Linked DNA regions of Homo sapiens: region 1 is linked to region 2. The links come from fine-mapping of genetic effects on gene expression. Tissue or cell type: amygdala. Region 2 holds a variant in brackets; the other region holds the start of a gene. All regions are shown on one strand. Distances are from middle to middle. Region 1 holds the start of ITGAV (integrin subunit alpha V). Region 2 has its middle 23 kb from the start of ITGAV.

Region 1 (5,383 bases), 23 kb after region 2:
GGATTTTGAATCAGCACTAGCTGAATTGACATGTTCTACAATACAATTTGCAAGGCACTGTGTGAGTGGCTGCTCGAGCATGGTCACACAAAGAGATGCCTGCATTTATAACCCCAAGTTTCTAAAGCCACTGGGTTAGTCTGCTTCATAGTTTCCTAATTGAAATGTATGTTTGCTTTTTTTTGTTGTTAGACAGTCTCGCTCTGTCACCCAGGCTGGAGCACAGTGGCCCACAATACCACAATATCTCGGCTCACTGTAGCCTCTGCCTTCCGGGTTCAAGCAATTCTCCTGCCTCAGTCTCCTGAGTAGCTGAGATTACAGGCACACACCACCATGCCTGGCTACTGTTTTTTCTTTTTTGAGATGGAGTCTCATTCTGTCATCCAGGCTGAAGTGCAGTGGCACGATCTTGGCTCACTGAAACCTCTGCTTCCCAGGTTCAAGTGATTCTCCTGCCTCAGCCTCCCAAGTAGCTGGGATTACAGGTGCCTGCCACTGCACCCAGCTAATTTTTGTATTTTTAGTAGAGATAGGCTTTCACCATCTTGGCCAGGCTGGTCTTGAACTCCTGACATCGTGATCCACCCACTTTGGACTCCCAAAGTGCTGGGATTACAGGTGTGAGTGAGCCACTGCGCCCGGCCAATTTTTGTATTTTTAGTAGAGACGGGGTTTCACTGTGTTGGCCAGGCTGGTCTTGAACTCCTGACCTCAGGTGATCCACCCACCTCGGCCTCCCAAAATGCTGGGATTACAGGCATGAGCCACAGTGCCTGGACTATTTGCTTTTTTAAAAAAAACAAATTCCTTGATTTTCAAGACTGCTCATTCAAAATAAACTCATAAAGAATGGCTCAACAGTAAGTGCTTTCAGTAAGTTGTAGCCCTATTTGGGGGTGTGTTGTTCACCCAAGTTTTGGTGGGTGTACATGTGTTGTCATTTCGTGGGCTTCTTCTTTTCCCTGGTCCTCTCACATTTCTTCACTCCACCTTGGTCTGTCGGACCCCTGTCCTGCGATCAGAAGTTGAGGAGTGGGAGACTTACTGGATCTAGCCAGAGTTTAAACTCTTCTGTCTTCCTTACCTGGATGGATTTCCAGGTAGACTGGTTGTCATGTTTTTAAGATATAAAAGACCCTTTGGGTTTATGCATACATATCAATAGCCTCTTTGGTGTATTAGGAAAGAAGGTGAGAAATAAGCTGTATTTGCATTTATGTGTAAGGATTTGTGTAGGATTTCTTCTCTCAATCAGTAATTTCTTTCAGGCAGATGCTAGACCATGCCTTGTAAAACATGCCAAAGGTTTTGCTGCATATCTTTTAGTCAAATTTAAAAATGGAAATATTTAATGCATTTTTTTTTTGAGATGGAGTCTCACTCTGTGGCCCAGGCTGGAGTGCAGTGGCACCATCTCAGCTTACTGCAGCCTCCGCCTTCCGGGTTCAAGCAATTCTCCTGCCTCAGCCTCCTGAGTAGCTGGGACTGCAGGCGCATGCCGCCACGCCCGGCTAATTTTTTGTATTTTAGTAGAGACGGGATTTCACTGTGTTGCCCAGGCTGGTCTCGAACTCCCGAGCTCAGGCAATTTGCCGGCCTCAGCCTCCCAAAGTGCTAGGACTACAGGCATGAGCCACCTCGCCCGGCCTTTTTTTTTTTTAAACACAGGGTCTTGTTCTGTCACTCAGGCTGGAGTGCAGTGGCAGGCTCATGACTTATCATAACCTGGAACTCCTGAGCCTAAGCGATCTATCTACCTGCCTTAGCCTCCGGCATAGCTGGGACTACAGGCATGCACCACACTCCCAGCTAATTTTTAAATTTTTGTAGAGATGAGGTCTCCCTATGTTCCCCTGGAACTCCCGGTCTCAAGCAATCCTCCTGCCTCAGTCTCCCAAAGTGCTGAGATTGCCAGCATGAGCACCTGGACCTGGTCCAATAAATATTACAAATTCGAATTAGGCATTTCACTTTCATTTATATACATATCCTTTCACAGGATTATTTGATAGTTATTAATGTATATTATGATTGAGTTTTAATAGTTACTTTGGGAAAACAGAAATTACTGTTCCAGTACTTACTTGTAAGTTGTAAGTCCACACAATGCACTTAAACTTCACCTTGTTCAACAGATTCTGTAGCACATGAAACACTTGAAATATGGAAGAGTCACTTCTCTGGGCACTTTGCTCATTTCGTCTGCTATTCATTCACTGATTGGACATTTTATTGATCGACTACTATCTGCTTGGCAAGGTGCTAGAAATAAGAACACTAAGAAAAAGGTCAAGGTTCCTGTCCTCAAGGCCCTCTCTCTCAGTCCAGTGTTGTCAAGGCTTGATGAAACACACCAGTGGCAAACAAGCACGCGGGGCCTTATTTCACCGGTGTGCGGTCCTTCTTCCAGCTCTGAAATTATGTCTATCCAAACATCCTAAATCAACAAATCAGTGTTTCTAAATCATACAACCGCAGCTAACAAACTGGGAATAAGGCTTCGATTATTCTGACTTGATTTAAAACGATCACTGCCAATTCTTTGCCCTGCGAATCCTTTCTTTGACTACTAAGTTAAGCTTTACATACCTCACTTGCAAGAGGCTATGCTGGCTTTCTGGAAATCCGTAATTAAGTTCAGTGTTTGTGGAATGGAGTGTAATTAACGACCATTAATTAACAGGGTTTCGTTCGTGAGAGCCTGCCAGGCTAAGCAGCAGAAACACGAGAAACTGATAAAAAGCTTTCCTCATTTTTAAACAACAGTCGCACGGAAGTTCCCGGCGGGACAAGGGAACGTGGGTGCCCTTGCTACTCCCGTGGACGCGGGTAGATTGGGACGCTGGACCGTATCTCCCCGCCCCCGCCCCCACGCCTCCTCAGGTGCTCAGCCTGAGGCCTTCGTCCAGGAGCGCTGCCGCTGACCCAGGCTCAGGAGCTGGGGGCCCCTGCACAGACGCCCAGGTCTCGGGACAGGCGGCGACTGCACTCACGGAAGTACGCTGAGCTCTCCCCTGTAGAAGGGCGCCTCTCCTCCCCCACTTCCTCCTCCAGCTCCACAGCAGCCTCCCGGGCCGGCTCCTCCTCCTTCCAGGTCTCCTCCCAGTGCCGCCGCGGCTCTCAGGCCTGAGGTGCGGCGCTCACCCCGGCAGTCCCCAGCCTCAGACGCTGCGTGGAGCGGCGGAGCCGGAGGGAAGCAAAGGACCGTCTGCGCTGCTGTCCCCGCCCCGCGCGCTCTGCGCCCCTCGTCCCTGGCGGTCGCTCCGAAGCTCAGCCCTCTTGCCTGCCCCGGAGCTGTCCCGGGCTAGCCGAGAAGAGAGCGGCCGGCAAGTTTGGGCGCGCGCAGGCGGCGGGCCGCGGGCACTGGGCGCCTCGCTGGGGCGGGGGGAGGTGGCTACCGCTCCCGGCTTGGCGTCCCGCGCGCACTTCGGCGATGGCTTTTCCGCCGCGGCGACGGCTGCGCCTCGGTCCCCGCGGCCTCCCGCTTCTTCTCTCGGGACTCCTGCTACCTCTGTGCCGCGCCTTCAACCTAGACGTGGACAGTCCTGCCGAGTACTCTGGCCCCGAGGGAAGTTACTTCGGCTTCGCCGTGGATTTCTTCGTGCCCAGCGCGTCTTCGTAAGTGGCCGCACTTGGAACTGGAGCCGGCCCCCTCCCCCACCGCGCGCACCCACCCAGCGTTTCTCCATTGGGATTGATTTCCGAGAGATCCCGGCGTCTGTCTGTCTCACCCATCCTACCTCTCAGAGTGGTTTATATCCTGGGTGGAGGAAATATTTGGGGAAATGAACTCCCTTTGGTACCCATCACCCAGTTACACCCCGCTTCTCACCTCTTAAAATTGGTTAGGGGCAGCGGGAGAGCTTTGAAGCAGACCTGTGCTTAAAAATCGGGGAAAGTGGGAAATCAACAAAGGCTGGTCTTGCCGGACTCCCCGCCTCCTGTGCCAGTGTCGAGGATTTGGTCAATATCATCCCCGAACTTCTTTTTCTCCTCTACCAGTTAGGCTTCTTGGTAGCCTTTTTCTGCTTTACAGGCTTAACGCCCGTCCTTTTCAGTCTCCCTAAACAAGCCCTCCCCCACTCTTTCCGCCTCTGTCTGATTCTGTTTCTCCTTACTCCTTTTGCAGACATTCTGATGACTTAAAATGACCATACTGTCCTATTGAATTCATTGTGTCTTATCTCTGGGACTGTCAGACATTTGCACATTTGAGGTTGAACAGATGAATTGAATGTGTCATCTGTTCTTTTTATAGTGATTCACTATTTAGGTCATTGTTCAGAAGGAACAAGGGTGTTTGCTGAGTTTTCACTCGCTGCAGGTCATTTGAATACTGCAGTATTTAATAATTCAGTTATGTTTTCAAGTTGCCAACGTTCCGCGTTGCAAGGGCCGTCAGGATTTATAACAGTTATTGCCATTATTGTGTTAGAAATTGTCTCCGACTTTACTGAATGCTGACATCATTCTCACCACCCCACCCCCATGTTAGCGTTAGGAGTACTGTTTTAATGAATGTTGACTGTTTTTTTAATGATGTTTAAATCTTGTTTTCAAGAGAGAAACTGTTCTTAGGGTGCCTTCTAAACGCTTAGACCTTGTAACAACATATTTTTGTTTCCATATTTTCTGTATAAGATATCCCTTCGGGGTGAAGTGGAGGAAAATTTTGACGGTTAGTACGTGGATAGGACCATCTTCTACTACACACATGCCTAATTTGAGGGTGGTCTCAATGGTTTTCTATGACTGTTAGGACACTCAGCAGAATTTAGTCTTAGTGTTTTTCTGAATGTTACTGAGTATCATTCATTTTGGTAACAACCTTTGCAGCAATACATAGATTAGATGCAGTTAATGGAAACTTTGTTAGTGGAGACATTATTTTATGTAGCAAGCTTAGTTTTATTTGTTGTTAGCAGTTACAGTGCTTTCTGTGAGACCTGGAGCACAGATTTTCCAACATGATAAAAATAATCATTATTTAGGCAACATTTACCAATTTCACATTCCATTTAGTCATTTTAGTCAGCATTATCTTTTTATTTATTGTTTTTAACCACAGGGGTGAATACCAAACGTTATCTTTAAACATTTTTGTTTCCAGATACTTTCAAGTGTATACCTTCATGAGACAGAACATTTTAGTTGCTCCCAAGGGTTCAATGTGAGATATAATTTGTAGAGAAATTCTAATGATTTTGAAAATATATGTCTTCAGTCAAAAATTAGCATTTAAATACTTCAGGCCAGGCACAGTGGCTCACACCTGTAATCCCAGCACCTTGGGAGGCCAAGATGGGCAGATTGTCTGAGCTCAGGAATTTGAGACCAACCTGGGCAACATGGTGAAACCCTGTCACTACAAAAAAATACA
Region 2 (5,383 bases):
GATTTCAAGACAAAGACCATAAAAAGAGACAAGGTATTACAATAATGATAAAAGGGTTGATTCAGCCAGAGGATATAACAATTGTAAATATATATGCACCCAACACTGGAGCACCCAGATATATAAAGCAAATATTATTAGAGCTTAAGAGAGAGATGACACCCATACAATAATAGCTGAAGACCTCAACACCTCACTTTAACATTGGACAGATCATCCAGACAGAAAATCAACAAAGAATCATTGGACTTAATCTGCTCTATAGACCAAATGGACCTAATAGATATTTACAGAACATTTCATCCAATGGCTGCAGAATACACATTTTTCTCCTGAACATATGGATCATCCTCAAGGATAGACCATACTTTAAGTCACAAAACAAGCCTTAAAAAATTTTAAAAAGTGAAATTATATCAAATATTTTATACCACAATGAAATAAAACTAGAAGTCCATAACAATATTAATTTGGGAAACTATACAAACACATGGAAATTAAACAATATGCTTCCAAATGATCAGTGGGTCAGTGAAGAAATTAAGAAGGAAATTAAAAAATTTCTTGAAGGCTGGGCAACATACCGAGGCCTCACCTCTACTAAAATAAAATAAATTAGGTGGGCATGCTGGTTTGTTCCTGTAGTCCCAGCTACTTGGGAGGCTGGGGAGGGAGGATCACTTGAGCTCAGGAGAGTGAGACTGCAGTGAACCATGATCTTGCCACTCACTGCATTCCAGCATGGGCAAGATCCTGTCTCAAATTTTTTTTCCTTGAAAAAATGATAATGCTAATAGAGTATACAAAAACCTATGGGATACAGTGAAAGCAGTACTAAGAGGAAAGTTTATAGCTATAAGCACCCACATCAAAAAAGTAGAAAAATGTCAAATAAACAACCTCACTATGCATCTTAAAGAATGAAAAATGCAAGAGCAAACCAAACCCTAAAAGTAGAAGAAAAAAAAAATAAAGATCAGAGCAGAAATAAATGAAATTGAAATGAAGAAAACAATGGAAAATGTCGATGAAGTGAACAGTTGGTTTTTTGAAAAGATAAACAAAGTTGACAAACCTTTATCCAGACTGAGAAAAAGAGAGAGAAGACCCAAATACATACATTCAGAGAAGAAAAAGAAGATACTACAACTAATACCGCAGAAATTCAAAGAATCGTTAGAAGCTACTATGAACAGCTATATGCCAATGAAATGGAAAACCTAAAAGAAATGGATAAATTTCTAGACACACACAACCTACCAATATTGAACCATGAAGAAATCCAAAATCTGAACAAAACGGTAACAAGTAATGAGATTGAAGCTGTAATAAAAGTCTCCTAGCAAAGAAAAGTCCAGGATCCAGTGGCTTCACTGCTGAATTTTACCAAACATTTAAAGAAGAACTAATACCAATACTACTCAAACTATCCTAAAAATATAGAGGAGGAGGGAATATTTCCAAATTCACTTATGAGGCCATTGTTACTATGATACCAAAACCAAACACACAACCAAAAAAGGAAACCTACAAGCCAATATCTTTATGAACATTAATGCAAAAATCCTCAGCAAACTACTAGCAAACTGAATTCAACAACACATTAAAAAAGATCGTTCATCATGACCAAATGGGAATTATTCCAGGGATCCAAGGATGGTTCAACATATACAAATCAATCAATGCGATGCATCAAATCAACAGAATGAAGGACAAAAATCACATGATCATTTCAATTGATGCTGAAAAAGCATTTGATAAAATTCAGCATCTCTTCATGATAAAAACCCTCAAAAAGCTGGTTATAGAAGAACATACTTCAACACAATAAAAGCTATATATGACAGACCCACAACTAATATTATACTAATTGGGGAAAAAATTAAAAGCTTTTCCTCTAAAACCTGGAACAAGAAAAGGGTGCCTACTGTCACCATTGTTATTCAACACTGGAAGCCCTAACTAGAACAATCAGACAAGAAAAAGATATAAAGGGCATCCAAATTGGAAAGCAAGAAGTCAAATTATCCTTGTTTGTAGATGATATGATCTTAATATTTGGAAAAACCTAAAGACTCCACCAAAAACTATTAGAATTCATAAACAAATTTAGGAAAGTTGCAGGACACAAAATCAACATACAAAAATCAGTAGCATTTCTATATGCCAACAGCAAACATTCTGAAAAAGAAATCAAGAAAATAATCTCATTTATAATAGCTACAAATAAAATAAAATACCTAAGAATAAACTTAACCAAAGAAGTTAAAGATTTCTACAATAAAAACCATAAAACATGGACGTGAAGAGGACCCATAAAAATTGGAAAGATATTCCATATTCATGAATTGGAAGAATCAATATTATGAAAATGTCCATACTACCTAAAACAATCTACAGATTCAGTGCAATCCCTATCAAATTACCAATGATAGTCTTCATAAAAATAGAAAAAATCATTCTAAAATTTATATGGAACCACAAAAGACCCAGAATAGCCAAAGCCATCCTGAGCAAAAGGAAAAAAACTGGAGGAATCACATTACCTGGCTTCAAATTATATTACATAGCAACCCAAACAGCATAATACTGACATAGTAGCAGACATACAGACCAATACAACAGGATAGAGAAAAAAAAGAACCCAGAAATAAGTCCATTCATCTACACTGAACTCATTTTCAACAAAGGTACCAAGAACATACATTGGGGAAAAGACAGTCTCTTCAATAAATGGTGCTGGAAAAACTGGATATCCTTATGCAGAAGAATTAAACTAGACCC[C/T]TATTTCTCACCATATAAAAAATCAAATCAAAATGGATTAACGATTTAAATCTTTTTTTTTTTTTTGAGATGGAGTCTCTCTCTGTCGCCCAGGGTGGAGTGCAGTGGCGCGATCTCGGCTCACTGAAACTTCCACCTCTGGGTTCAAGTGATTCTCCTGCCTCAGCCTCCAGAGTAGCTGAATCACAGGTGCCCACCACCATGCCTGGCTAATTTTTTTTGTATTTTTAGTAGAGATGGTGTTTCACCATGTTGGCCAGGCTGGTCTCAAACTCCTGACCACAAATGATCCACCTGCCTTGGTCTCCCAAAGTGCTGGGATTACAGGCGTGAGCCACCGTGCCCGGCCTAAAGACTTAAATCTAAGACCTCAAACTATAAAGCCACTAAAAGAAAACATTGAGGAAAGTCTCCAGGACATTGGTCTGGGCAAAGATTTTTTGAGTAATACTCCCCAAATACAGGCAACTAAAGCACAATTGGGCAAGTGGGATCACATCAAGTTGAAAAGCTTCTGCACGGCAAAGGAAAGAATAAAGTGAAGAGAAAACACACAGAATAGGAAAAAAAATTTGCAAGCTACTCATCGTTCCAGGAATTAATAACGAGAATATATAAGGAGATTAAACAACTCTATAGGGAAAAAAATCTATTAATTCTGTTAAAAATAGACAAAACATCTAAATAGACATTTCTCAAAAGAAGACATACAAATGGCAAACAGGTATATAAAAAGGTGCTCAATATCTTTAATCATCAGAGAAATGAAAAACAAAACTACAATGAGATATCATTTCACCCCAGTTAAAGTGGTTTTTATCCAAAAGACAGGTAACAACGAATGCTGATGAGGTCGTGGAGAAAAAGGAACCCTCGTACACTGTTGGTAGGGGTGAAAATTAACATAGCCACTACGGAGAACAGTTTGGAGGTTCCTCAGAAAATTAAAAATAAAATACCATATGATCCAGCAATTTCACTACTACCTATATACACAGAAGAAAGCAAATATATTAAAGAGATATCTGCACTCCCACGTTTATTGAAGCACTATTCACAATAGCCAAGATTTGGAAGCAACCTAAGTGTCCATCAATAGATAAGCAGATAAAGAAAATGAGGCACATACACAATGGAGTACTATTCAGCCATAATAAAGAATAAGATCCTGTCATTTGCGGCAACATGAATAGAACTGGAGGACATTATGTTAAGTGAACGAATCCAGGCACAGAAAGACAAATTTTGCATGTTTCCATTGATTTGTGGGAGCTAAAAATTAAAACATTTGAACTCATGGAGATAGATTGATGGTTACCAGAGGCTGGGAAGGATAATGTGTATGGTGGGGGTAGTGGGGATGGTTAATGGGTACAAAAATATTGTTAGAATTAATAAGGTCTAGTATTTGATAGCACAAAAGAGTGACTAAAGTCCACAATAATTTATTGTACATTTTTAAATCACTAAAGGAGAGTATAATTGGAATGATTATAATACAAGGAAATGATAGATGATTGAGGGGATAAATGCCCCATTTATCCTGATGTGATTATTACATATTGTATGCCTATATCAAAATATCTCACATATCACATAAGTATATACACTTACTATGTACTCATGAAAATTGAAAATTAAAAAAAAATTTAAGTAAATGTGAGAAAAAAAATTACATGAATGTCTTCTTTTGAGAAGTGTCTGTTCATGTCGTTTACCCACTTTTTAATGGGGTTGTTTTTTTCTTGAAAATTTGTTTAAGTTCCTTGTAGATTCTGGATATTAGAACTTTGTGAGATGGATAGATTACAAAAATTTTCTCCCACTCTGTAGGTTGCCTGTTCATTCTGATGATAGTTTCTTTTGCTGTGCAGAAGCTCTTTAGTTTAATTAGATCCCATTTGTCAATGTTTGCTTTTGTTGCAATTGCTTTGGGTGATTTCATCATGAAATCTTTGCCCATTCTTATGTCCTGAACGGCATTCCTAGATTTTCTTCTAGGGTTTTCAGAAACAAAGCTCAACATCACTGATGATTAGAGAAATGCAAATCAAAACCACAATGAGATACTATCTCATGCCAGTCAGAATGGTGATTATTAAAAGTCAAGAAATAATAGATGCTGGCAAGGTTGTGGAGAAATGGGAACACTTACACACTGCTGGTGGGAGTGTAAATTAGTTCAATCATTGTGGAAGATGGTGTGGTGATTCCTCAGAGATCTAGAACCGGAAATACCATTTGACTCAACAGTCCCATTACTGGGTATATAACCAAAGGAATAGAAATCATTCTATTACAAAGATACATGCATGTGTATGTTCATTGCAGCACTATTCACAATTGCAGTGACATGAAATCAACCCAAATGCCCATCAATGATAGACTGGATAAAGAAAATATAGTACATATACACCTGGAATACTATGCAGCCATAAAAAAGAACAAGATCATGTCTTTGCAGGAACATGGATGGAGCTGGAAGTCATTATCCTCAGCAAACTAATTCAGGAACAGAAAACCAAACACCACATGTTCTTGCTTATATGTGGGAGATAAGCAATGATAACATATGGACACAAGGAAGGGAACAACAAAC

Evidence for each region. PIP is the estimated chance that this variant, and not a neighbour inherited with it, causes the effect.
Region 1: it holds the start of ITGAV, and the variant in region 2 is fine-mapped to the expression of ITGAV in amygdala (GTEx, PIP 0.98).

Annotation. Positions count from the first base shown.
Region 1 is chr2:186,586,903-186,592,285 of GRCh38, forward strand. It overlaps ITGAV (integrin subunit alpha V), which reads left to right and starts at 3,154. Exons shown (of 30, transcript NM_002210.5): 1 at 3,154-3,621. The coding sequence starts at 3,437. It overlaps LOC124906105 (a long non-coding RNA gene), which reads right to left and starts at 2,994. Exons shown (of 2, transcript XR_007087465.1): 1 at 2,088-2,994. RefSeq lists a silencer at 3,217-3,446 and an enhancer at 3,577-3,636.
Region 2 is chr2:186,564,089-186,569,471 of GRCh38, forward strand. No RefSeq gene overlaps it. Among named protein-coding and RNA genes, the nearest start is that of ITGAV, 23 kb to the right of the region's middle. The variant C/T (reference allele first, on the strand shown) is at 2,785.